Homo sapiens: one gene and its partners. The protein of the gene in region 1 interacts with the protein of each later gene in a biochemical or structural test. Each region holds a gene or a part of one and is shown in the gene's direction. Other genes may lie near its edges. The genes, in order: NCL, LTF, ERG, PRKCZ, GZF1, PIDD1 and NPM1.

Region 1 (3,500 bases):
CTGGGATCAACATATTCCTTCCACGACAACCTGGAGATGAGATTAGAATCCTTGTGGGAATTCTCTGGGTTGTTGTGGTGTGCTAGACTTAATTACCCATGAATGATTTTTGTGCCTCTTGAGAAAATTTCAATAGCACATTCTATTAGTGTTTTTTATAATGTAGGATTTTGTTTCTAAGTGATTTTTTTTTTTTTTAAATTTTTTTGAGATGGAGCTTTTGCTGTTTCCCAGGCTGGAGTGCAATGGCGCGCTATCTCGGCTCACTGCAGCCTCCATCTCCTGGGTTCAAGCAGTTCTGCCTCAGCCTCCCGAGTAGCTGGGATTACAGGTGCCCACCACCACACCCTACTAATTTTTGTATTTTTAGTAGAGACGACATTTCACCATGTTGGCCAGGCTGGTCTCGAACTTTTGACCTCAGGTGATCCACCCACCTTGGTCTCCCAAAGTGCTAGGATTACAGGCGTGAGCCACTGCGCCCGGCCCCAAGTGATCTATTCTTGCCATGACTGTTAACTAAACATGGTGACAGGATTGCATTTTCTTTACATTAGATTTGAAAACCGATGTTGGTTTTGGGAGATTGCTGCAATTTTTAGGTGACTTCTCTTTCAGACTCTGAAGAAGAAGCTATGGAGACTACACCAGCCAAAGGAAAGAAAGCTGCAAAAGTTGTTCCTGTGAAAGCCAAGAACGTGGCTGAGGATGAAGATGAAGAAGAGGATGATGAGGACGAGGATGACGACGACGACGAAGATGATGAAGATGATGATGATGAAGATGATGAGGAGGAGGAAGAAGAGGAGGAGGAAGGTACTTAAATTAGATTCTGACATACGACATGAGTTATGTTTAAAGGAGGCACTTAAGTGTTTGTGGCTACTGATGTGTGATACATTGTTTGACATCTTGTCCAGAGCCTGTCAAAGAAGCACCTGGAAAACGAAAGAAGGAAATGGCCAAACAGAAAGCAGCTCCTGAAGCCAAGAAACAGAAAGTGGAAGGTAACTTGCAGAATTAGGGGATATGGGGGAGATAAACAGCACAAATGATGAATAACAAAGGGACTTAATACTGAAACCTGATGTTACATTGTAGTGTGCTGATGTGCTGTGTATAGAAATTTTGCTTTGGAAACTAACTTTTTACCACACTACAAGTAGACTGAGTTGAGCTTTTTTTGTGCAGGCACAGAACCGACTACGGCTTTCAATCTCTTTGTTGGAAACCTAAACTTTAACAAATCTGCTCCTGAATTAAAAACTGGTATCAGCGATGTTTTTGCTAAAAATGATCTTGCTGTTGTGGATGTCAGAATTGGTATGACTAGGTAAGTGCTTCACTGCACGTTACATACACGTGGGTCTGTTAATGCTTTTCCTTCCCCTGTTAGCACAGTTACTTTAGCCTGCTACTGTTAAACATGAATACTGTAAACATCTTCAAGGATTAGCATTAGTGAACTAAGTTAGAATTAAACTGTAGATCCCCTAAGTTGCAATTTCCATAATCAGTCGTAACTTGGTATAGCACAGAATAATTTTTAGTAAGTTTTTTTGTTGTTTTTGTTATGTATTGAGACGGACGCTGGCTTTTGCTCAGGCTGGAGTACAGTGGCGCAATCTTGGCTCACTGCAACCTCTGCCTCCCGGGTTCAAGCGATTCTCCTGCCTAAGCCTCCCAAGTAGCTGGGATTACGGGTGCACTTCACCATGCCTGGCTAATTTTTGTATTTTTAGTTGAGATGGCATTTCACCATGTTGGTCAGGCTGGTTTTGAACTCCTGACCTCAAGTGATCCACCCACCTCGGCCTCTCGAAGTGCTGGGATTACAGGCGTGAGCCACCCTGCCAGTAAGTTTTAATAATTTGGTGTTAGGTGGGAGAATCGCTTGAACCTGGGAGGCAGAGGTTGCAGTGAGCCAAGTTCGCGCCACTGTACTCCAGCCTGGGCAACAGATTGAGACACCGTCTCAATTTAAAATAATGTTTATTTTCTTGGAAGTACCTGAAACTATTAGACCTGTCTAGTCATCATAGTGAATACTTTTATCCAGACAGGATTCTCCTGTATTAGTGCTTATAGGTGTTCTTTTGTCAGCTGCTACTGTGAATTCTTATAAGCAATTTAGCTCCATGATGAAGACCTCAAACGTGAATGTGCATGTCATATCTTCATGCTGAGACCTTGTTCTGTAGCTGCAGTTTGCAGAGCCTTGACTTTGTTTTGCTAATACTAGGGGTGCTTTTTAAAATGTGATCTTTGTTTGCACCATCACATTTGTCTAGAATACATATTGTGGATTTTGATTTGTGTTTTCACCTGTTGTAATTTTGCCCTCCTCTCCACCTTGAAGGAAATTTGGTTATGTGGATTTTGAATCTGCTGAAGACCTGGAGAAAGCGTTGGAACTCACTGGTTTGAAAGTCTTTGGCAATGAAATTAAACTAGAGAAACCAAAAGGAAAAGACAGTAAGAAAGGTATGTAAGGCTTTATGAGATTATGCAATGAACTCAGGAGCTAGACTGCTAGGGAAAATGCTTTGTAACCCATTTCCCTTGGTTTCCTCTTATTTTTTTAAATCATTTTTTTCCTTTGGTTTCCTCTTAATGTGGGAATTAAATGAGCTACAGTGTTTACAAGAGTACTTGGCACTGCTTGTCAGTGTTATAGTGTAAATTCCTGAGTTAGGCAAGCAAGAGCACTTTTATACAGAACAAGAATTATTAGATGCACCTAAATTAACGTAAAGGGATCTTTCTTCACTGAAACTAGATTAGGTCCCTAATTACTCCCTATATACAGTTGTAATGTTTTGAATTGGTACATTCACTTTTTTTGTTATGCGCGTCTACTCTAGGTTGAACTCCAGTGTACCTAACAGAGAGTTTGACATCAGCTGTGACAACATGGAGGGACCACTTGTGTGTTGACACTGCTATATCTCCATATTTAGCACCGAGCCTTGTACATTATAGGATCTCAAATTATTTGTTGAATAGAGCTATGTGTGTTTTTCCCCTCTTTTTGTTGTTGCCCCCCACCTTTGGTTTTTCAGGCCACAGAGCTCATTTTTGTTTTTTTAATCTAGAGCGAGATGCGAGAACACTTTTGGCTAAAAATCTCCCTTACAAAGTCACTCAGGATGAATTGAAAGAAGTGTTTGAAGATGCTGCGGAGATCAGATTAGTCAGCAAGGATGGGAAAAGTAAAGGGTATGTTCTGTCTATTGAAATGTAAGGGTTTTATTAACATTAATGCACTTTCCTGCTTTATAAAAGAAATATTGGTTTGATTTCCTTAGGCGTGTAATCTTGGACAGTTTAACCTGTAAGTTTGTGCCTCAGTAACCCATCTGTACCATGGGGATAATGTACTCATAGGGTGATTTTAAAAGACAAGCTAATACTTACAAAGAAGCAAGAAATGTGCCTATCTTACAATAAATACTTTGTAAGTAGTAGCAGTTCTTTCAGTGAGGTGAGGTTACTATGAA
Region 2 (3,500 bases), on another chromosome or scaffold:
GAACATTCTACCCCATAGCACATCCAAAGGGCAGAGGGCTTTTACAACTGTGTGTTTATTTTGTTTTTTTGTTTGTTTGTTTTTTGTTTTAGTTTTTGGTAACAGCTTTACTGAGGTACATTTTCCATATCATAAAAAATCACCTATTTGCGTACAATTCAATGAGTTTCAGTAACCTTACCGAGTGTGCAACTATCACCATAAATCTGTTTTAGAACACTTTTATCCCCCCCAGTAAAGGTCCCTCATGCCTGTTTATAGTTAATCCTCATTTCTACCCCAGCATCAGACAACCACTAATCTATTTTCTTGTCTCCATAAATTTGCCTTTTCTGGACATTTCATTCAAATGGAATCATACAGCATGTGGTCTCTTGTGTCTGGCTTCCTTCACTGAGCATAACTGAGGCTCGTTCATGTTGTGGGGCATGCCAGTAGTTCTTTTCACTGCTGAGTAATATTCCATTGAATGGATGTACATTCACCAGTTATTGGACATTTAGGTTGTTTCCAGTTTTCTACTATTCTAAATAACACTGCTATGAATATTCATGCACAAGCATTTATGTATGATAGGTTCTTATAATATTTCTTCTGGCTATATGCCTAGAAGTGCAATTGTTGGGTCCTATTGGAACTCTGTGCTTCACATTTTGAGAAGCTGCCAACCTGTTTTACAAAGTGGCTGGTCATTTTACATTCTCAGCAATGTATGAGGGTTTCCACTTCTCCACATCCTCATCGATATGTGTCATTGTCTGTTTTAGCTATTATAACCTGTTCAGTGGCTGTGAAATGATATTTCGTTGCATTTTCAATTTGCATTTTTGACTAATGATATTGAGCACTTTTCATGTGCTTATTGTCCATTCATATATCTTCTTTGGTAAAATGTCTGTTCTTATCATTTACCCGTCATGTACTAAATCCTTTTTGATGTTATACTATCTAGCATTATGTTCTTAATTTCATTTTTAGATTGTTCTGTGCTGTATGCAAAAATATGATCAATTTTTGTATATTGATCTTGTATCCTGTGGCCTGGCTGTACTTGTTTATTAATTCTAATAGTACTTTGTAGATTCTTCAGTATTTTCTACATAGAAGATCATGTTATCTGAAAGTAAAGTCAGTTTTACTTCTTTCTTTCCAATATGGGTGTCTCATTTCTTTTCTTGCCTTATTGCTGTGACTAGAATCTCTAGTACTGTTGAATAGAAGAGTTGAGTGTGGACACTCTCTCATCATTCCTGATCTTAGGTGGAAAGCAGTCAGTCTTTCACCATTTTAGTATGATGTTCATTGCAGGTTTTTTGTGGATGCCTTTTATCAGGCAACCAGGTGAGTAAATTCAATGCATCTTCCTCCCTAATTACATGGATTTGAGCAACAAAAGCAGGCTCAAAAGAAGAACCAGTATTTGAGCAAAAAAAGCAGGCTCAACAGGAGCACCAGTCTTTCTGTGCAGAGTGAATGGTGGTAGCTCAGGCACACCAACCAACTGATTTGTCCCCATTGACACTGACTTACCATTTACCTCAGCTACCAACCGACTCAGGTATATTTTCCCCTGTTCTCTTGGCATTCCCTGGGAAGAGATTTATGCACAAAACAATCTAGAGAGACGTGGATTCTCAGCTGGGCTCTGCACTGCTGAGTGGCGAGTCACTCAGCCTCCTTAGGAGCCAATTTCCACATCAGTAAAACAGGAGCAATGACTCCTTTCCTGCCTACCTTCCAGGTTCAAAGTGGGCAAAGCTGGTAGAAGAATTCCATAACTGATCTGGGGGATCACCATCATTTTTTAAGTGGTAGGAAACATGTCAAAGTCATAGGAATGAAAATAATCTAGAGGGACTTTCTCCTTTAATTTATTGAGAACCACAGACCTCTAGCCAATGCAGAGATCCTATTAGTCCAGCAAGATGCCTCCACTTGTGGAGAATGGCTGGACATAGCCATGAAATGGAGAGGGAAGGAGGGCAGCCGAGAGAGAGGGAGGAGTCTGGAAAACTCCATCAGAGGGTGCGGTGGTCACGCCCTCAGTCAGTGGTTGAATCCTTACTCCTTGGCCCCTCTCTCCCAGGACTGTGTCTGGCTGGCCGTAGGAGGAGTGTTCAGTGGTGCGCCGTATCCCAACCCGAGGCCACAAAATGCTTCCAATGGCAAAGGAATATGAGAAAAGTGCGTGGCCCTCCTGTCAGCTGCATAAAGAGAGACTCCCCCATCCAGTGTATCCAGGCCATTGCGGTGAGTCAATGCCGGGTGTTGGTTGGGACCAAGCTGAATGGAAGGGAGAGAGAAATGGAAAAAGATAGAACACGAGCTCTCCTTACTTCCTCTGCTTCACCTGTTGGGCAACGAAGTGGGGAGCCGTCCTCTCTCACAGGGAACTGTGCTATTTTCAGAGCAGAAAGGAAGGAGCTTAAGTCAAGAGACCATGTGTGAGGAACCTGGAGCCTCCACATAAACTATAATAACAACTGTTATTCATTAATAACAACTGTTCCAAAATGAAATGTAATCAGTTGTATTTGATGAATACATAGGATCAGCAAAAAGCAAAGTTACTCAGAGAGGGAAATCCTCCAAAAGAGTCATGACCTCTAAACCCTGTGAGAAAGAAGCTTGTCCTGGTCACCGTTGCCACATCACATGGCTGGGGCAGGGCCTGCCAGGGTGCTGGGTGTTAGAAAGACTTTTGTCCAAGACACTTTCAGAGAGAGAGAAAAGGGTATCATGACTTGTATATGATTTCTGATTCCTTTTATTTTTTGAGATGTAAGATCTACTGAAATGATTTTTACTCATTCATTCAACAAATATATTCTGTGTACCTGCCATGTGCCATAATCATGTGTACTCAACTCCAGCAGAGTGAATAATTTGCATAAAAGTTCCCGAGGCAACTTCATAGGATTATCTTATAAATACAATGGAGTTATTAGAATAGCACTTAGGGAAAAATCTAGTTTAATCAATGTTTTAGGCTATTATTTTACAACTATTACCTGCATACAAACAGTACCAGTGGCTGGGCGCGGTGGCTCACGCCCGTAATTTCAGCACTTTGGAGGCCGAGGTGGGAGGATCACCTGAGGTCAGTAGTTCAAAACCAGGATGGCCAACATGGTGAAACCCTGCCTCTACTAAAAATACAAAAATTAGCTGGGTGTGGTGGCACATGCCTGTATTCCCAGCTACTTACAAGGCTGAGGCAGGAGAATCACTTGAACCCGGGAGGGGGAGGTTGCAGTGAGCCAAGATCATGCTATTGCACTCCAGCCTGGGCGACAAGAGCGAGACTCCATCTCAAAAAACAAAAAACAAAAACAAAAAACCAGCACCAGCATCTCTTGCTTGTTTAAAATGCAGATTCCTAGGCTCTATTCTAACCTACTCAATCTGAATATATGTGAAAGAAGCCACAAAATCTGCCTTTTAAAATAAGATCCTGTCCAAGGCCATACCACGCTGAACGCGTCTGATCTCGTCTGATC
Region 3 (3,500 bases), on another chromosome or scaffold:
TATAACTTGATTACCTCATTTAGGATCTTATCTCCAAAAAAGGTCACATTCTTAGATACTGCGGGTTAAGATTTCAACATAGGGAATTGAGGGAACACAATTCAACCCATTATACAAGCAGATAAAATAACTAGTATTTTTTAAAAGAGAGCCTTGATACAACCACAAGACTTCAAATTCAGGCTCATCTTCGATGGTCTGTTTCTGAACTTCGATGCTAGAAGAAAGTGCAGATTCTTAATTAGCCCATTTGTAACCAGTGCATTGCCAAGGTTTGTCACCTGTCCTAGTGTTTCAGTGCCAACCACATAGTTTTATTTGTTTGTATTCAGATCAGAACCAGCTGTGCTGGCACCAGCTTCAGAAATTCATAGCCTATGCTGCATATTCCCAACTGCAAATTCAAATGCCAAGATGTTACAGGCATATTGCAAGCACAAGATGGAATGTGTATTTCCTAAACGTTGAGGCCAAAATAAGGTTCGAAATGGAATAATTAAGATTTAATCAGTGTACATCCCTGCAAGAGAATCTACACATTGAAAACACGAAATGTTATCATTATTGAACATCTGTATTTTTGAAGTTAAATTTTGGTTAATGTTAATGAATTCAATGAATTTTTTTTACACAGCTGAAAATCTAAAGAAAACTAGTTAGCCTGGGGCCTAGACTAGGTGCTCAATAATTATTTGTTGCATACATGAATGCCAAGGATAATGAGATATAGTCCTTTAGCTCAGGGTGCTTTTGGTCCGTGGAGAGATGGACACAGGTAGTTACAACATTGTCCCAAACACAGAGCCACAGGCCCTTTTTGCTCATGCTGGCTTTCATCTAGTAGCCCAGGCTCCTGAGGCTGTGGTCTCTTCTCAGCCTTCTGCTCAGCTTTTCATTTGCAACTCTGCCATATAACCATTCAAATAAAAATAATGACTATGTTTTGAGATGATTATTATCAGTCATGCTTCAGGAAGACTGATCTGGCAGCAATGTTCAGGATAGATTAGAAAAAAGAAAATGACGGAAGCTGAAACACTCTGGGAATGTTAATACAATCATGTGAAATAACAATCAAACAGCTCCCATCCCGCAGAATGCCCCCCATAGAATGTCTGTGGTCCCTTCTGTGTCTCATAACAGCCCTGGGAGGTTACTATCTCCATCCTACAGAAAAGGAATTAGAAGTCCAGAGAAGTTAAGTAACTTTTCCTGTGTCACACAGCCAATGATAAGGGAGGTCAGGTTAGAAACCTGACTCTGTCTGCAAAGTCTACTTTTGTTTTCTTGCCCTACTCTGCCACTGACTAAGTATGAAGGGAAGAGGAGGTCTTACAAAATGCGGACTGTGAGAATAGAAAGCAAGGATTTCCTTTCAGGGTCATAACTGCTTAGGTGCAGGCGATGAATCTGAGGTCAGGAAGGAAGAGGAGGAAAGAGTCAAGCTGCACCAAAGAAGACCAAACTGGCCTTTGCACTCACACATTGGCCAAATGAAACATATATGTCCATGACCACGTTGTCACAGCCCAAAGGTACTGCTTGGCTTGTTTGTAGAATAGGGCCTGAGTCACTTGCTCCTAAGCAAAGTGCCAGCTTTCACAAGGGAACACTGCATATGCCCTGGGCCCAGCAGCCCGGGGATGCCCTTTGTAGATAGAGGGACCTGAGCTCAGAGCAAGGAGACCGGAAACTCATCACAGGCCTGGGGAAGGAGGACTGTGCTTCATACCATTAAGACTGTTCTTAATGGGCCTGGAGAAAATGGCAACATCCCATCTTTGATTTGCAGGCAAGTGACTTTAAGATAAAGATTTATTTCATTTAGTTTCTGATGAATTTGACTTTCTCTCCATCTATCTTTAGGTTTGTGTCTGTTGTGCTCATGTGAACTTTTCCCCTGAAACCAGAATGTCTTTTATCTTTGTATTAATGACAATGCTTCTTCCTGTTTGATTCTATTTTTCTATTCTCTGATAAATAAATCTTTCATCACTTAAAAATTGCTGTCTTTGCTCTTCATACAATACAAATTCCTTTTCATCATTTTAAGTGGAAAGATTGCATCATATAGTATGAATGCACAGGATGATGTCAGCATCCCAACATCTCTATCCCAAATATTCACTTGATGTGTACTTTGGACATCACTTTTCCTGCTGAGAACAGTGTGTCCCTGCATTCTGATATCATGGATCGGTTATAAGCAACACAGCTCCTTTACATCCCATCAGAGCAGCTGAGAATCTATCTAACATGGTTCCTCTAATGAAAGAGCTTTGGTGGGTTATGTTCAGAGGCTTCCTTGATGCTAACTGGATACTCTTCAATGGTGCACATGAAAATACATCCTGCCTCTTGCAGAACGACAGACCAGGCTAGGGATGTTTTCCCATTTGTTAGGAGGTGGCAGTGTGCAGTCTTCCAGTGGGAGTCCCCCAGGGAGGGGACAACATGGAAAGGACCTGAGGAGGCTACAGAGGTGTGCATAAACCAGGCCTGAAAGCAAGTTTGCGCAGTGATTAAGCATGGCAGCCTAGAGTCTGGATTTCAACCCTTGCCAACGCTAAGCAAAATAAGTCAGTCTACCTCTCTAAGCTCCAATTTCGTCACTTCTCCAATGGACTAATCACATGATTCCTGTGGGGATTAAATAAACCAATACATGTAAAGCGTTTAGAATGGTGCATGGCACACAGTAAGCTTTCAGAGGATATCAGTCAGCCCAAGAATAGCACCGTTTCAAGCTTCTTCATGGTTCAATAGGCCAATTGAACAGTATTTCTCTTTCTTTAGGCATTTCCTGGCTATAGGAGAGGAGTGTTATCTTTCCTTAAACTCTGATTTTCAGCCCAAAGAAATTCTGACAAGACCATTCAAGTACTGAGTTCATCCTTACCATGATCTTGCAAGATAGTACTATTACCATCACCCCCACTTTACAGATGACGATACTGAGGCAGAGAGAGCTGCGAGAGTTGCCAAACGTCCCACAAAGGGCAGAGGCAGGATTCAGCTGAAGCAGTGGCAACTCCAAAGTTGGTGCTCCCTACCACCATGCTTTCCTGCCCCTCCAGTAAGTGGTGCCTGAGCCTCACTGAGCCTCGGGGCAGAGACTTCCATTCAGGACACACCTGCTGGACACACCTGCTGCCTTGCAGAGGGTCCAGGCCATGCACACGGGATCTTCTGCACCACCCCTGGCTTCTAGAGAAAGTGGCCCCAAACCACTGCCACATGGTACTGGTGGGGCCCCTCACGGCTGTATTTACTGCCCTTGTTCATCAGCTGACGGCTGCAGGGCTTTGCACCAGGATGCTGTTTCCACCAGACACAGCTGCTGACTCACTCTGCAGCTCTCTGCTTTGCTCTGTGGTTTGTAAACCGTTTAGTTTTTTTTTCCCCCTTTTTTGCTCAGTCTGTACCCCTTTGCTACCCTGTTTCTCTCCCTTTCTTTTAACAATATTAGGAGATTACTTTCCTCTGTAAAATTAAAGGAG
Region 4 (3,500 bases), on another chromosome or scaffold:
CTGTTGTCCACTGACCTCTCCGTCTATCCATCTATCTATTGTCCACTGACCTCTCCATCTATCCATCTATTGTCCACTGACCTCTCCATCTATCCATCCATCTATTGTCCACTGACCTCTCCATCTATCCATCCACTGTCCACTGACCTCTCCATCTATCCATCCATCTATTGTCTACTGACCTCTCCATCTATCCATCCATCTATTGTCCACTGACGTCTCCATCTATCCATCTGTCTGTTGTCCACTGACCTGTCCACCCATCTGTCTGTTGTCCACTGACCTCTCCATCTTTCCGTCTGTTGTCCACTGACCTCTCCGTCTATCCATCTATCTGTTGTCCACTGACCTCTCCATCTATCCATCTATTGTCCACTGACCTCTCCATCTATCCATCCATCTATTGTCCACTGACCTCTCCATCTGTCCATCCACTGTCCACTGACCTCTCCATCTATCCACCTATTGTCCACTGACCTCTCCGTCTATCCATCCATCTATTGTCCACTAACCTCTCCATCTATCCATCCATCTATTGTCCACTGACCTCTCCATCTATCCATCCATTGTGCACTGACCTCTCCATCTATCCGTCTTCTATCCAGGCCTCCATTCATCCCCCATCTAGTCATCCTCCATCCATCCACCAGACATCCACTCCTGCCCCTACCCACCCATTCACTAGACACCAAAATCCGGTGACGAATTATTTGCAGATGGACCCCTGGGGACGTATGTCACGAATGTACATCCCCAGGTCCCATGGTCAGAGTCGGCAGGTGTGAGTGGGGCCCAGGAAACTGCATTTTCAGAAGACTCTAAATTAGAATCAGACATGGCTGCTGTGTGGATTCACCCTTCACCGTCACCCTGCAGAGGAGCAAGGTCCACAGGGTCGCTGTGTTCCCAGTGCGTTCCTGACCACACCGTAACGCCCCTTCCTTCCTCCCTCTCTCACCAGTTGCTTACATTTCCTCATCCCGGAAGCATGACAGCATTAAAGACGACTCGGAGGTGAGTGTGTGGAGCAGCTCGCTGCCATTTCCGACGTCCTCTGGAAAGTCTGTGAGCCTGTCTCTGGGGTAGTCACGGAAATCTAGATGTGAAATAGACATGGTCCGGGGTGTTGCTAACTAATCTTCACGGGTGTGGATGTCTAGAAGGAAGTCCTTATTCTTGGGTCTTACTTCAGGCATGTCCTTGATGAATACCTGCAGGCAGCTGTCCCCGCAGGTGGTCTGGGGACCACACCCTGCGGGGGAAGCCGTGCCCCACATCCTCTCCATTCAGGTGGTACAGTGGCCCAGGGGCTGGCTTTTGAGCTGCAATTTTTATCAAGTTGTGTCTGCACCATGCCTTCCGAATTGTGTTGCCTCATTTGGCCATCCTGGCAAACCCTCTGAAGCCCTTTCATGTCCTTCCCCAACTTGAGCCAAGAGGCTCAACTGAGCCTCACGTCTGTGGCCAGCTCTGCACCATAAACCCTGAGAAGGGAACAGAAGAGCTTGCTGCGTTCTCAGCCTCTGCTCGTAAAACCCAGGGAAGGACTGCACTAGCGAAGCCCACTCCTTTCCAGAGCACCAACAAGTGTCACCCTCACAACTCGTGCTCCTTCCTGGCCATCCTGTGTCTGGAGGGAGGCCGGGGCACTTAGAAAGCAGAATCTGAGGCTGAGCACGGCGACTCACACCTCCAATCCCAGCATTTTGGGAGGCTGCGCACATCGCTTGAGTCCAGGAGCTCGAGAACAGCCTGGGCAGCATAGCGAGACCCTGTTCCTACAAAAATAAATACAAAATAATTAGCTGGGCATGGTGGCACGGGCCTGTGGTCCTAGCTGCTTGGGAGGCTGAGGTGGGAGGATCGCCTGAGCCTGGGAGGTGGAGGCTGCAGTGAGCTGAGATCGCACCACTGCACTCCAGCCTGGGCGACAGAGGAAGAGTCTGTCTCAAAAAAAGCAGAATCCGGCTGGGCGCGGTGGCTCACGCCTGTAATCCCAGCACTTTGGGAAGCTGAGGCGGGCAGATCACGAGGTCAGGAGATGGAGACCATCCTGGCTAACACGGTGAAACCCCGTCTCTACTAAAAATACAAAAAAAAAAAAAGCTGGGCGTGGTGGCGGGCGCCTGTAGTCCCAGCTACTGGGGAGGCTGAGGCAGGAGAATGGCGTGAACCCGGGAGGTGGAGCTTGTAGTGAGTCGAGATCGTGCCACTGCACTCCAGCCTGGGCGACAGAGCCAGACTCCGTCTCAAAAAAAAAAAAAAAAAAAAAGCAGAATCCATTTTGCCGCACAGAACAGCACCTCCCAAGGAACCGCCTCCTCCACCCCGACCTCCTTGCCAGGTGTAGCTTGCGGGAGGCAGAGGCTTCTGTTCTTCCTCGGAGCGCCTTTCTCCTGGGTATTTCTAATAATTATTTCTAATAATGTGTGCCTGCCGGTTTGGGAGCTCTTGGCAGGCATTAGCTGCATTCGCTTTACCTTCCTTCCCCTGAGGGAGGGCACTGATCAGGAAGGATGGGCCCAGGCCCTGGGCCACATGTCCCTGTGGCCACCTCTTCAGCCCCACTGATAGGGCTGAGGGCCTGGGGGTCCCTCCCACCTGCAGCTGTGACCAGAGCCATGGTCTGTGGAACGAACAGCTTCTAGCTTTCTAGCACCTTCCTCAGAAGCACACAGCCTTAAATTCTTACCTTTCATGCCCCAGTTTAGATGGGAGTTTGGGGGTGGGATATGTGGGACGCAGAACTGAGACTCGAATCATGAGGCCCTGGGCTCTGAGGAGCAGGTCTCTGTTGGGACCGCATGAGTGATGCGTGGTCCTCTGAGTCTCCCGGGAACCCCCCTCTCACTTTCTGGGGTCTTGTTCTCCCTCCCTAGGACCTTAAGCCAGTTATCGATGGGATGGATGGAATCAAAATCTCTCAGGGGCTTGGGCTGCAGGACTTTGACCTAATCAGAGTCATCGGGCGCGGGAGCTACGCCAAGGTTCTCCTGGTGCGGTTGAAGAAGAATGACCAAATTTACGCCATGAAAGTGGTGAAGAAAGAGCTGGTGCATGATGACGAGGTAGGTGCCGCTTCTCATGGGGCCCGGGGGCCCGGGAACGCGCTGCCCTGGGGCCTCCTCCGGGCTTTAGCGGAATTAATCCATGCACGAGAGACCTAGCCTCACGTTGACGGAGTTTGTGCAAAATCAATAGTCATGCATCGTGTAATGACCAGGATGTGTTCTGGAAAGTGCCTGGTTAGGTAATGGCACTGTTGTGTGAACATCACAGTGTGCACTCCACAAACCCAAACAGCACAGCCAACTCCACAGCCAAGATGCACAGTGCAGCTCCTGCTCCCAGGCTGCAAGCCCGTACGGCTGTTAGTGCACTGCACACTGCAGGCAGTGAGGGGACCACCACGAGAGCACTCACGTGTCTAAGCTTAGAAAAGGTGAAGATGGGTATCGTGGTCTCTGCAACCTTCTCATGTATGGCCAACCACTGATACG
Region 5 (3,500 bases), on another chromosome or scaffold:
GACAGGGTGGGCACGGAGATGGAGCAGGTTTCCAAAAATGAGGGTTGCCAGGCAGGTGCTGAGTTGGAGGAATTGTCAAAGAAAGCAGGGCCGGAGGAGGAAGAGGAGGAGGAGGAGGAGGACGAAGAAGGGGAGAAGAAGAAGAGCAACTTTAAGTGCAGCATTTGCGAGAAGGCGTTTCTGTATGAGAAGAGCTTCCTGAAGCACAGCAAGCACCGCCACGGCGTGGCCACCGAGGTGGTGTACCGCTGCGACACCTGCGGCCAGACCTTCGCCAACCGCTGCAACCTGAAGAGCCACCAGCGCCACGTGCACAGCAGCGAGCGCCATTTCCCATGCGAGCTGTGCGGGAAGAAGTTCAAGCGCAAGAAGGACGTGAAGCGGCACGTGCTGCAGGTGCATGAGGGCGGCGGCGAGCGGCACCGCTGCGGCCAGTGCGGCAAGGGCCTGAGTTCCAAGACAGCGCTGCGGCTGCACGAGCGCACACACACGGGAGACCGGCCCTACGGCTGCACCGAGTGCGGCGCCAGGTTCTCGCAGCCGTCCGCGCTCAAGACGCACATGAGGTACGCGGGGAGCCGTCCGGAGGGGTCCCTGCGCACTGGAAGGGTGTGTCAAGCACTGAGGTCGTCCTGGGATTTGATGTCTCACTGCTTAATTTCTCCGCTCCAAACCTGGGGGCTTATTTCGAGACAGCGTTTAGTTCTCTGTCAAGGTACAGGGGCTGCGAGTGATGGCTCTGCTCCCTTGTTCTGAGACCCCTGGGGCGCCCCTGCTGGCCGGGACGTCCCTCTGGTGGGACCGCGACAGCGGCCGCGGGCTCGCCCCACCGTGCTGGAGGAAGAGTTGGGCCTCGTTACCTTTATTTCTCCTTTCCTGACTCTTCGTTTAGATCTTGGGGTTCTGTGACCATCCGGGTCCCACAGTCTCAGTAGAGACCTCAGTGAGATGCCATTTCAGGCTTTAGGACTCGTCTCTGGTCTTTTGGTTCTCAGGCTTGGAAGGAGTGCCATCTAGGCAGTCTGCACTCCAGAATCAGGACAGACAGTGCTTTCTGTTTCTTAATATGTTTCTGAGCTGCAGGTGTGTGGTGATGTTTTTAAATAAGTTTTCTTATAGTTCTTAGTATATTTATTCTTGAAATCCCAACAAGCAGTTGTTTTCTCTTCTCTTCTAGATCTGCCCTCAAACCTAGGTCAGTCTTGGGTTAGCAGCATGGTGTTCATTTTTTACTCTATATAATAAGTTAAAAATACTTGGTTTAGGAAGTGCTCAGTAAATTATGTTTGATTGCTACTTCATACTAGTTGTGACATTAAAATGCTTATGCATTTTAAAAATGCCACCTTCGGCAATTTGAGAACAGTTCTCCTTTCTCTACTGGTGATGTCATATTAGGAAATGAGAGTAACATTTTTGATCATGTGACACTTAATCAGCAGTAGTTCCTAAGGTGTTTGTGGCTGATTATTCTGTATGAGACAGCTTTACAAATATCAGATTGTGGTCTTTAGTGTTTAAAAAAATCTGCAAAGGCCTGGTCTCTACCTGCACATGCCTTATAGCATCAGCAGTAGGGCTTGTGATCAGGTGTAGATGAACATTCCAGTCAGTGATTTATGGAAAATGTGTGGATCCATTGACCTTGTGCAGAAACTCAGTTTATTTTGGGATGGAGATTATGGGCTCTTGACCTGTCACTACAGTCATTCTCATTAGGTCTCTTGGAGTAAACGATTTTTGCAGGATAGAGTGGAAATTGTATTGCAAAGTGAGCTTTGAAATACATCCTAAGTTATCATCTGAATGTTGTACTTTCAGAATTCATACAGGGGAAAAACCTTTTGTCTGTGATGAATGTGGTGCAAGATTCACTCAGAACCACATGCTGATTTATCATAAAAGGTGTCACACAGGTAAATACTCATGCTGTTGTGATTGAATGTCTTTCCTAGATCTAGAAGGAAATGCAATTGATTAATTTTGAAGTTGGCATCTACCAAGGTGGTGCAGGTTAAAGCCATGATATAGCTTTTCCATCTAGTAAGTGAGCAAAATGAATAAACATACACCCATTGCCTTGTTGCTAGTGTGCACATGGCTGTGGCTTTTATACCACCAGGCCATAGGATCTGGCATGCAGGTCTTAGGTATCAAGAGATATAAAATAGTTCTTTTGTAACCGAAATTTTTTTTTCTAAGACTCTGTCCTAAAGAAATTGTCCAACATATGGGAAGAGCTGTATGCTATTATCCCCCTTCTTGCTATTTTTAACTAAGAATGGGAAACAGCCTGATTGTCCAACTACAAGGAAGTGCTCTAGTCAACTCTGGTAAATCTATACCCTGGCTTATGACCCGGCTATTCAGAGTAAGGGCTCTGAATGACATGAAAAAGTCTGTGCTTGGATGTTCAACTTTAAAATGCACAATTAAGCATACAGTTAACCTCAATTGTATTGAAAACCTGCACATAAAAGACCAGAAGAAAATAAGTTGTTATATGATACATTAAGGTAGTAGGATTATCTCATTTCTGTTTTCCAAAGTCTTTATGATTTATTAATTATGTGACAGATAAAACTTAAGTTGGCTTTATTCTGCTTCAGCACAGTAACCCTGAGGTTTAGAATCTTGTGGAAGATACAGAAGCATACAGCACTGAAGTGTTCCAATTCTTCTCAGTTTCTTCTTTGCTTGCATTTTTTATTCTTACCTGTAAACACTGGCTTACAAGCCTCAAGTTCAAATGCATGTGAGACAGAGATGACATGTCTCTGACTCATTAGACACCACATCTGTGTGATTAGACACCAGTTCTGCTCATTCTGAAGTCATAATTCATGTCATTGAATGAAAATCTCATTTAATGTCATGAAATTAGCATTTAATGACATGCATTATGACTACAGAATGAGTAGAATTGTTTAAAGAAAGCTTGGGATTGGGGACAAGGTCAGGTTATAATGAAGGATTAAGTTAGAATTGGTCCTTTGATAATATTAACATGGTAAGATTTTATTAAAGTCACTATTTTTATTTTGATGTCTGTGAAATCGGGCACAGCTAATAATTTGGTAAGTCTGATTTGTGGGATTAAACTACAAAAAGTGAGATATTTAAAACTCTTGTCCTACAATTCAATCAAGTTGATTGGAGTTGCTACTCTAGAATAGTGATATATATCCATTGTCAACTTCCCCTTTATTCTGATAAAGATCCATAGAAGTGTTCCTTTGAAAATAATCCAGCAGTTCCTCCAAACAGAAGTTGTGAAATTATTTTCTTGTTTGGAATGAGTAAATTTCTAAAATGTGAGCCAGCTGAACAAACAATACCTCTTTGATTCTAGTCAAATGGAATTTTTCTTGCAATTTCCAAGGATATTTTACACCAACTTTCAGTAAGTAGCAAGCATCTTACATGAATATATATTTTATGATAGTTTTTACTGGAAAATGTAACATGCTGCCTACCAAGGCACTTTTGAGTTCACGTGG
Region 6 (3,548 bases), on another chromosome or scaffold:
GCTGGAGCTGCAGCCCCATGGGGTGGCCTTCCAGCAGGCATGGACAGGGCGTGGCGGGGGCAGTGTGTGGGCCAGGGCATGGCAGGGGCAGTGTGCGGGCCCGGGCATGGCTCCAGTGCTCACACCATCCTTGTCTGGCAGGATGTGGGGCTGTGGCTGCTCTTCACCCCACCGCAGGCCCGGCGCTGCCGTGAAGTGGTGGTCAGGACCCGGAATGACAACAGCTGGGGTGACCTGGAGACCTACCTGGAGGAAGAGGCACCCCAGGTGAGGGCCACCCAGGCCTGCCGGTGGCGAGTGGAGAGCTGCTGCCCTGAGCCGTGCACCTCTGCCCAGAGCCTCACCCTGGCACCTTCCACCCTGCCCCGTCCCTCCTGGATCCTGCTTCCCTATGTCCCTGGCACCTTCCACCCCACCCCGTCCCTCCTGGATCCTGCTTCCCTGTGTCCCTGGCAACTTCCACCCCACCCCGTCCCTCCTGGATCCTGCTCCCTGTGTCCCTGGCACCTTCCACCCCGCCCCGTCTCTCCTGGATCCTGCTCCCTGTGTCCCTGACTGGCTGTGCCCTGACCCAGGCTCCTGTGACCTCCTCTCTCCCCCATCCCAGCGGCTCTGGGCTCACTGCCAGGTGCCCCACTTCTCCTGGTTCCTTGTGGTTTCCCGCCCTGTGTCCAATGCCTGCCTGGTGCCACCGGAGGGGACACTGCTGTGCTCCTCGGGTCATCCTGGGGTCAAAGTCATCTTCCCCCCTGGGGCCACTGAGGAGCCTCGTCGAGTCTCCATGCAGGTATGGCCAGGACAGCACTGAGGGTGGCAGGCCGCGCCTCAGCCCACAGGCAGGTGCTCAGGGGGCCTGTCTGCCCCAGGTGGTGCGCATGGCTGGCCGAGAGCTGCAGGCCCTCCTGGGAGAACCAGAGGCTGCAGTGAGCCCCCTGCTGTGCCTGTCACAGAGCGGTCCCCCCAGCTTCCTCCAACCGGTCACCGTGCAGCTGCCTCTGCCCTCTGGCATCACAGGTGAGAGGCAGCCATGGGGCATACCTGGACCTGTGGCCATAGGGTGGAGGGGGTCTCCGGCCAGGAGGCCTCAGCTCGCTGCCCCTCCCATCCCCAGGCCTCAGTCTGGACCGCTCCCGCCTGCACCTGTTGTACTGGGCCCCTCCTGCAGCCACCTGGGATGACATCACAGCTCAGGTGGTCCTGGAGCTCACCCACCTGTACGCACGCTTCCAGGTCACACACTTCTCCTGGTCAGTGCCCCCCAGCTTTCTCAGCCCCCCTCCCCCAGTCTGTACAGCCCTCCTCACCCCCAGCTCTCCCAGGTACTGGCTCTGGTACACCACCAAGAACTGTGTGGGAGGCCTGGCTCGGAAGGCCTGGGAGCGGCTGCGGCTGCACCGTGTGAACCTCATCGCTCTGCAGCGGCGCCGGGACCCTGAGCAGGTCCTGCTGCAGTGCCTGCCCCGAAACAAGGTGGGGGCACGGGCCGGAGGGCAGCAGGGTGGTGACCAGAGGGCTGGGGTGGGGTGCAGAGCTTTGGGTCCTGAGCTGCACGGGCTTCCCCGCAGGTGGACGCCACCCTTCGGCGGCTGCTGGAGCGGTACCGGGGCCCCGAGCCCTCTGACACGGTGGAGATGTTCGAGGGCGAAGAGTTCTTTGCGGCCTTCGAGCGCGGCATCGACGTGGATGCTGGTAGGGATGCTGGTGGATGCTCCCTGCCCTGGAGGGGGAGCCTTACCGTCCTCCCCGAGCCCTCCTTGCTCAGCCCACCCCTGTCCCCTAGACCGCCCTGACTGTGTGGAGGGCAGAATCTGCTTTGTCTTCTACTCGCACCTGAAGAATGTGAAGGAGGTATACGTGACCACCACTCTGGACCGGGAGGCTCAGGCTGTGCGGGGCCAGGTGGGCGAGGGGAGTGGGTGAGGGGAGAGGCCCCCCAGGCCGCTTGGGCAGAGGACCGAACTCCGAACCCCATTCGATGCCCCTTCAGGTGTCCTTCTACCGTGGCGCGGTGCCTGTGCGGGTGCCCGAGGAGGCTGAGGCTGCCCGGCAGAGGAAGGGCGCAGACGCCCTGTGGATGGCCACTCTGCCCATCAAGCTGCCGGTGGGACTGAGGGACAGCAGAGGGGCGGGGCAGGACCGAGGCCCAGGGGTGACCAGGGTGACATGGTGGAGTTGGGGGTGGAGCCCAGGGCTTAATGCACTTTTTCCTTCCAACAGAGACTTCGAGGGTCCGAGGGGCCACGGCGGGGGGCTGGCCTCTCCTTGGCACCCTTGAATCTGGGAGATGCCGAGACCGGCTTTCTGACGCAGAGCAACCTGCTGAGTGTGGCTGGGCGTCTGGGTCTGGACTGGCCAGCCGTGGCCCTGCACCTGGGGGTGTCCTACCGGGAGGTGCAGCGCATCCGGCACGAGTTCCGGTGAGGCTCCCACTGCCCGCTGGCTGCCAGCCCCAGGGCTGAGCCCTGGCTGCCTGGAGGGCCCACCTGATTCTGACAGAAGTTTCTTCCAGGGGAGGTGGGGGAAGGGCAAACACCAGGCTGGAAAGGAAAGGTCTGGCCGCACCTGGCCCCAGGAGCCGGGAACTCCCCCACACTCCGAGGCAGAGTGTGGTGGGGGGTCCTGGGCAGGTGGACAGGACCCCTCTGTCGCCCATCCTCTGCCTGCAGGGATGATCTGGATGAGCAGATCCGTCACATGCTCTTCTCCTGGGCTGAGCGCCAGGCTGGGCAGCCAGGGGCTGTGGGGCTCCTGGTGCAGGCCCTGGAGCAGAGTGACCGGCAGGACGTGGCTGAAGAGGTGCGCGCAGTCTTGGAGCTCGGCCGCCGCAAGTACCAGGACAGCATCCGACGCATGGGCTTGGCCCCCAAGGACCCCGCTCTGCCTGGCTCCTCGGCTCCACAGCCCCCAGAGCCTGCCCAGGCCTAGGCCCCACAGACTTTTAGGCTGGCCCAGATATTCCCCAGTGGATGGGCAGAGCCCCCACCTTCAAGTCTCTCCAGTGTGTGGGGACGGGTCCCTGTGAGCAACAAAACTGCACTGTTTCTTTCACCTCAGAGCTTGATTTATTTGTTGGATGGAGAAGCCGTTGGAGGGCGGAGGGTGGTGGGGTAGAGGCCTGGCCCCTGCGGGGAGGGAGGCCTGTGTGCACAGGTGCCCCACATCCTGGTCCTGTCCTCTCCCACTGTGCCTGGGGCCTCCTGTGGGTCCTCATCTTCCTGGGAGGGAGGAGCTGTGCTACAAAGTAACCCACATGGGCTACTTTTTTTTTTTTTTTAAATGGAGTTTCTGTCACCCAGGCTGGAGTGCAGTGGCATGATCTCAGCTCACTGCAACCTCTGCCTCCCAGGTTCAAGCGATTCTGCGTCACCCTCTCAAGTAGCTGGGACTAGGGCACTTGCCACCACGCTGGCTAATTTTTGTATTTTTAGTAGACGGGGTTTCACCATGTTGGCCAGGCTGGTCTCGAACTCCTGACCTTAAGTGATCCGCCTGCCTCGGCCTCCAAAAGTGCTGGGATTGCAGGTGTGAGCCACTGCGCCCAGCCCCAA
Region 7 (3,500 bases), on another chromosome or scaffold:
AGTGATGTGATCTTGGCTCACTGCAACCTCCTCCTCCCTTGTTCAAGCAATTCTTCTGCCTCTCCCAAGTAGTTGGGATTACAGGCACCCCCCCCACCACGCCCGGCTAATTTTCTGTATTTTAAATAGAGACCGGGTTTCGCCATGTTGGCCAGGCTGGTCTTGAACTCCTGAGGTCAGGCCCGCCTCGGCCTCCCACAAGTGCTGGGATTACAGGCGTGAGCCACTGCACTGGGCCCAAGAATTCTTTATGTATTCTGCAAACAAGTCCCTTATCAGACACAAGATTTACAGATTATCTTCCACCATTCCGTGAATTGTTACTTAACTTTCATGATGGTGGCCTTTGAACAAGTTTTTAATTTTTATGACGTCCGATTTCTTTTGTTGCTTGTGCCTTTGGTGTCAATCCTAAGAAATCATTGCTAAATTCAAAGTTGTGAAAATTTGCCCCCTTAATTCTGAGTTTTGTCCTTTATATTTAGGGCTTTGTTCCATTTTGAGTAAACTTATGTGTATGGTGTGAATGGAGGGGTCTAAATATAGACTTTGGATGTAGATTAGCAGTTGCCCCAACATGATTTGTTCAAAAACTATTTTTTCCCCATTGAATGATCTTGGCAACCTTTAAAAGAGTCACTTATGGCTGGGTGTGGTGGCTCACACCTGTAATCCCGGCACTTTGAGAGGCTGAGGCAGGCGGATCATGACCAGGAGATTGAGACTATCCTGGCCAATTTGGTGAAACCCTGTCTCTACTAAAAATACAAATTTTAGCTGGGCATGGTAGCGTGTGCCTGTAGTCCCAGCTACTCAGGAGGCTGAGGCTGGAGAATTCGCTTGAACCTGGGAGGCAGAGGTTGCAGTGATCTGAGATTGCACCACTGCACTCCAGCCTGGCGACAGAGCGAGACTCCGCCTCAAAAAACAAAAAAATCACTGTTTCTGGACTGTTCTGTTGATGTGTCTATCCTTAACATGTAAGAACAGTACAACACTGTTCCTCTGTGGTTTTTATTTATTTATTTTTTTGAAATGAGTCTCACTGTCACCCAGGCTGTAGCACAGTGGCGTGATCTTGGCTCACTGCAACCTCCGCCTCCTGGTTCCTCCTGCTTCAGCTTCCTGAGTAGCTGGGATTACAGGCGCCCGCCACCATGCCCGGCTAATTTTTGTATTTTTAGTAGAGACTGGGTTTCCCCATTAGCCAGGCTGGTCTCAAACTCCTGACCTCAGGTGATCTGGCCGTCTCGGCCTCCTAAAAAGTGCCGGGATTACAAGCGTGAGCCACGGTGCCTTGGCCCCTTTGTAGGTCTTATAGCTGATTTTTTGAAATCAAGTGTGAGTTTTCTAGCTTTCTTCCTTTCCAGATTGCATTTGGCCTCTTTGGGTCCCTTAAGTGTCTTTTTTGTTTTTGTTTTTTGAGATAGGGTCTTGCTCTGTCACCCAGGCTGGAGTGCAGTGGCAGAATTACACAGTTACAGTTCACTGTCTCAAGCAGATCCTCCTGCCTTAGCTTTTCAAATAGCTAGGACTACAGGCGCACACCACCACGCCTGCTAATTAAAAATTTTTTTTGTAGAGAGGGTTCTCATTATGTTGCCTAGGCTGGTCTTGAACTAAAACGATCCTCCCACCTCAGCCTCCCAAAGTGTTAGGATTATAGGTGTGAGACACTGTGCCAGTTCTTGGGTTTGTTTATAAATTTTAGGATCTGTTTCTACAGAGAAACCAGCTTGGGGAGTCTTCTAACGATTGTATTTAACCTGTATATTCGGGGAGTGTTTCCATCTTGGCAATATCTGAACATGGAATGTTTCTATTTAGGTCTTTAATTTTTTTTTTTAACACAAATTCACTCTGAGTGTACAGTTTAATAGAACTATACATTACTTAAATATACATACATTATACAGTGGTATAGTGTGTATTTATGCAAAACTACTCATTGAGCAACTTCATTTCCCAGCCCCTAGCGATCACAATTATACCTTCTATTTCTTTGAGTTTGACTACTTTTAGATACTTAATGAATAGAATCATACAGTGTTTGTTCTTTTGTGGCTGGCTTATTTCACTTTGTTCAAGGTTCAGTCATGTAGCATGCAAGAGGATTTTCATTGTGTGTACATATACATTTTCATTTAGTCATTTAACACTTGGGTTGCTTTCACCTCTTGGCTGTTGTGAACAATGCTTCGATAAACATGGGTGCACAAATAATCACTTCAAGGTCCTGCTTTCAATTCTTGTGTCTACTCCCAAATTTTGAAAGTGCTTAATGTCTTGACATTTCATTTGTAGTGATGATGATGATGATTTTGATGATGAGGAAGCTGAAGAAAAAGCGCCAGTGAAGAAAGTGAGTAGATACAATGCTACAAGGTTGTTAAACTAACAATAGAAATGGTGATTTTTTAGTGCTATTTGCTTGTTTTGTAGTTAAGGGAAGCTGGTGTGGGAGATCATCTCATACTGAAAATTAGTCCTGAGGAGGATTACAGAAAACTTAAGAGTGGGGAATGGTCTGTTTTCTTTATCCATGTGGCCCTCCACCCAGTTTGTTAGTCTTGTGTAACCTTTTGTCCAAGTGGTTGCTGCTTTTTCCTTCCTTTTTTTTTTTTTTTTGAGACGGAGTCTCAATGTCACCCGGGCTGGAGTACAGTGGCGCGATCTCAGCTCACTGCAACTTCTGCCTCCCGGGTTGAAGCGATTCTCCTGCCTCAGCCTCCTGAGTAGCTGGAATTACAGACTCATGCCACCACACCCAGCTAATTTTTGCATTTTTAGTAGACCACCATGTCGGCCAGGCTGGTCTCGAACTCCTGACCTCGTGATCCACCTGCCTCGGCCTCCCAAAGTCCTGGGATTACAGGCATGAGCCACCACGCCAAGCCTGTGGTTGCTGCTTGTCTTACATGGCTTGGACAGCTTTGTTTGCACTGTTGTTGGGGTCAGGGACAGTGATTAAGATAAATTTCTAATTGCAGTCTATACGAGATACTCCAGCCAAAAATGCACAAAAGTCAAATCAGAATGGAAAAGACTCAAAACCATCATCAACACCAAGATCAAAAGTAAGTGGCTACATTTACACGTGGGTCTCATTGATCTAGTTGGGGAAAAAGATTCTACTGTGGAAGAATCTAGTGTGTCTGAAATTTGATAGGCCTTTATAGAACCCCTGTAATTGCTGTTTAAAAGTTAAAATCAGCTTGCTGCAGCCAGGCTCAGTGGCTCACTCCTGTAATCCCAGCACTTTGGGAGGGAGGCCAAGGTGGGTGGGATCACCTGAGGTCAGGAGTTTGAGACTAGCCCGGCCAACATCGTGAAACCCTGTCTTTACTAAAAACACAAAAATTAGCCAGGCATGGTGGTATGTGCCTGTAATTCCACCTACTCAGGAGGTGGAGACAGGAGAATTGCTTGAACCTGGGAGGTGGAGTGCAGTGAGATTGCACCACTGCACTCCAGCTTGGGCAAAAGAGCGAGACTCCGCC

What was found.
Region 2: the proteins of NCL (region 1) and LTF interact in a biophysical measurement, tested with the Homo sapiens proteins (one study listed by IntAct).
Region 3: the proteins of NCL (region 1) and ERG form a complex in vitro, tested with the Homo sapiens proteins (one large-scale study listed by BioGRID).
Region 4: of the proteins of NCL (region 1) and PRKCZ, one has a biochemical effect on the other in vitro, tested with the Homo sapiens proteins (one study listed by BioGRID).
Region 5: the proteins of NCL (region 1) and GZF1 form a complex in vitro, tested with the Homo sapiens proteins (one study listed by BioGRID).
Region 6: the proteins of NCL (region 1) and PIDD1 form a complex in vitro, tested with the Homo sapiens proteins (one study listed by BioGRID).
Region 7: the proteins of NCL (region 1) and NPM1 form a complex in vitro, tested with the Homo sapiens proteins (one study listed by BioGRID).

Annotation. Positions count from the first base shown.
Region 1 is NC_000002.12:231,457,985-231,461,484, reverse strand, and holds part of NCL (nucleolin), read left to right. Parts: intron 1-618; coding exon 619-816; intron 817-920; coding exon 921-1,007; intron 1,008-1,042; exon of another isoform or gene 1,043-1,117; intron 1,118-1,191; coding exon 1,192-1,333; intron 1,334-2,359; coding exon 2,360-2,484; intron 2,485-3,095; coding exon 3,096-3,219; intron 3,220-3,500. UniProt on the Homo sapiens protein: Nucleolin is the major nucleolar protein of growing eukaryotic cells. It is found associated with intranucleolar chromatin and pre-ribosomal particles. It induces chromatin decondensation by binding to histone H1.
Region 2 is NC_000003.12:46,458,406-46,461,905, reverse strand, and holds part of LTF (lactotransferrin isoform 1 preproprotein), read left to right. Parts: intron 1-2,086; coding exon 2,087-2,250; intron 2,251-3,500. UniProt on the Homo sapiens protein: Transferrins are iron binding transport proteins which can bind two Fe(3+) ions in association with the binding of an anion, usually bicarbonate. Lactoferricin binds to the bacterial surface and is crucial for the bactericidal functions.
Region 3 is NC_000021.9:38,386,978-38,390,477, reverse strand, and holds part of ERG (transcriptional regulator ERG), read left to right. Parts: intron 1-3,500. UniProt on the Homo sapiens protein: Transcriptional regulator. May participate in transcriptional regulation through the recruitment of SETDB1 histone methyltransferase and subsequent modification of local chromatin structure.
Region 4 is NC_000001.11:2,147,911-2,151,410, forward strand, and holds part of PRKCZ (protein kinase C zeta type), read left to right. Parts: intron 1-961; coding exon 962-1,014; intron 1,015-2,879; coding exon 2,880-3,068; intron 3,069-3,500. UniProt on the Homo sapiens protein: Calcium- and diacylglycerol-independent serine/threonine-protein kinase that functions in phosphatidylinositol 3-kinase (PI3K) pathway and mitogen-activated protein (MAP) kinase cascade, and is involved in NF-kappa-B activation, mitogenic signaling, cell proliferation, cell polarity, inflammatory response and maintenance of long-term potentiation (LTP).
Region 5 is NC_000020.11:23,365,182-23,368,681, forward strand, and holds part of GZF1 (GDNF-inducible zinc finger protein 1), read left to right. Parts: coding exon 1-566; intron 567-1,821; coding exon 1,822-1,916; intron 1,917-3,500. UniProt on the Homo sapiens protein: Transcriptional repressor that binds the GZF1 responsive element (GRE) (consensus: 5'-TGCGCN[TG][CA]TATA-3'). May be regulating VSX2/HOX10 expression.
Region 6 is NC_000011.10:798,684-802,231, reverse strand, and holds the end of PIDD1 (p53-induced death domain-containing protein 1), read left to right. Parts: coding exon 1-37; intron 38-141; coding exon 142-267; intron 268-607; coding exon 608-787; intron 788-866; coding exon 867-1,014; intron 1,015-1,111; coding exon 1,112-1,247; coding exon of another isoform or gene 1,248-1,319; coding exon 1,320-1,470; intron 1,471-1,565; coding exon 1,566-1,689; intron 1,690-1,780; coding exon 1,781-1,899; intron 1,900-1,987; coding exon 1,988-2,101; intron 2,102-2,217; coding exon 2,218-2,417; intron 2,418-2,666; coding exon 2,667-2,925; 3' UTR 2,926-3,048; downstream 3,049-3,548. UniProt on the Homo sapiens protein: Component of the DNA damage/stress response pathway that functions downstream of p53/TP53 and can either promote cell survival or apoptosis.
Region 7 is NC_000005.10:171,397,849-171,401,348, forward strand, and holds part of NPM1 (nucleophosmin), read left to right. Parts: intron 1-2,304; coding exon 2,305-2,362; intron 2,363-2,990; coding exon 2,991-3,077; intron 3,078-3,500. UniProt on the Homo sapiens protein: Involved in diverse cellular processes such as ribosome biogenesis, centrosome duplication, protein chaperoning, histone assembly, cell proliferation, and regulation of tumor suppressors p53/TP53 and ARF.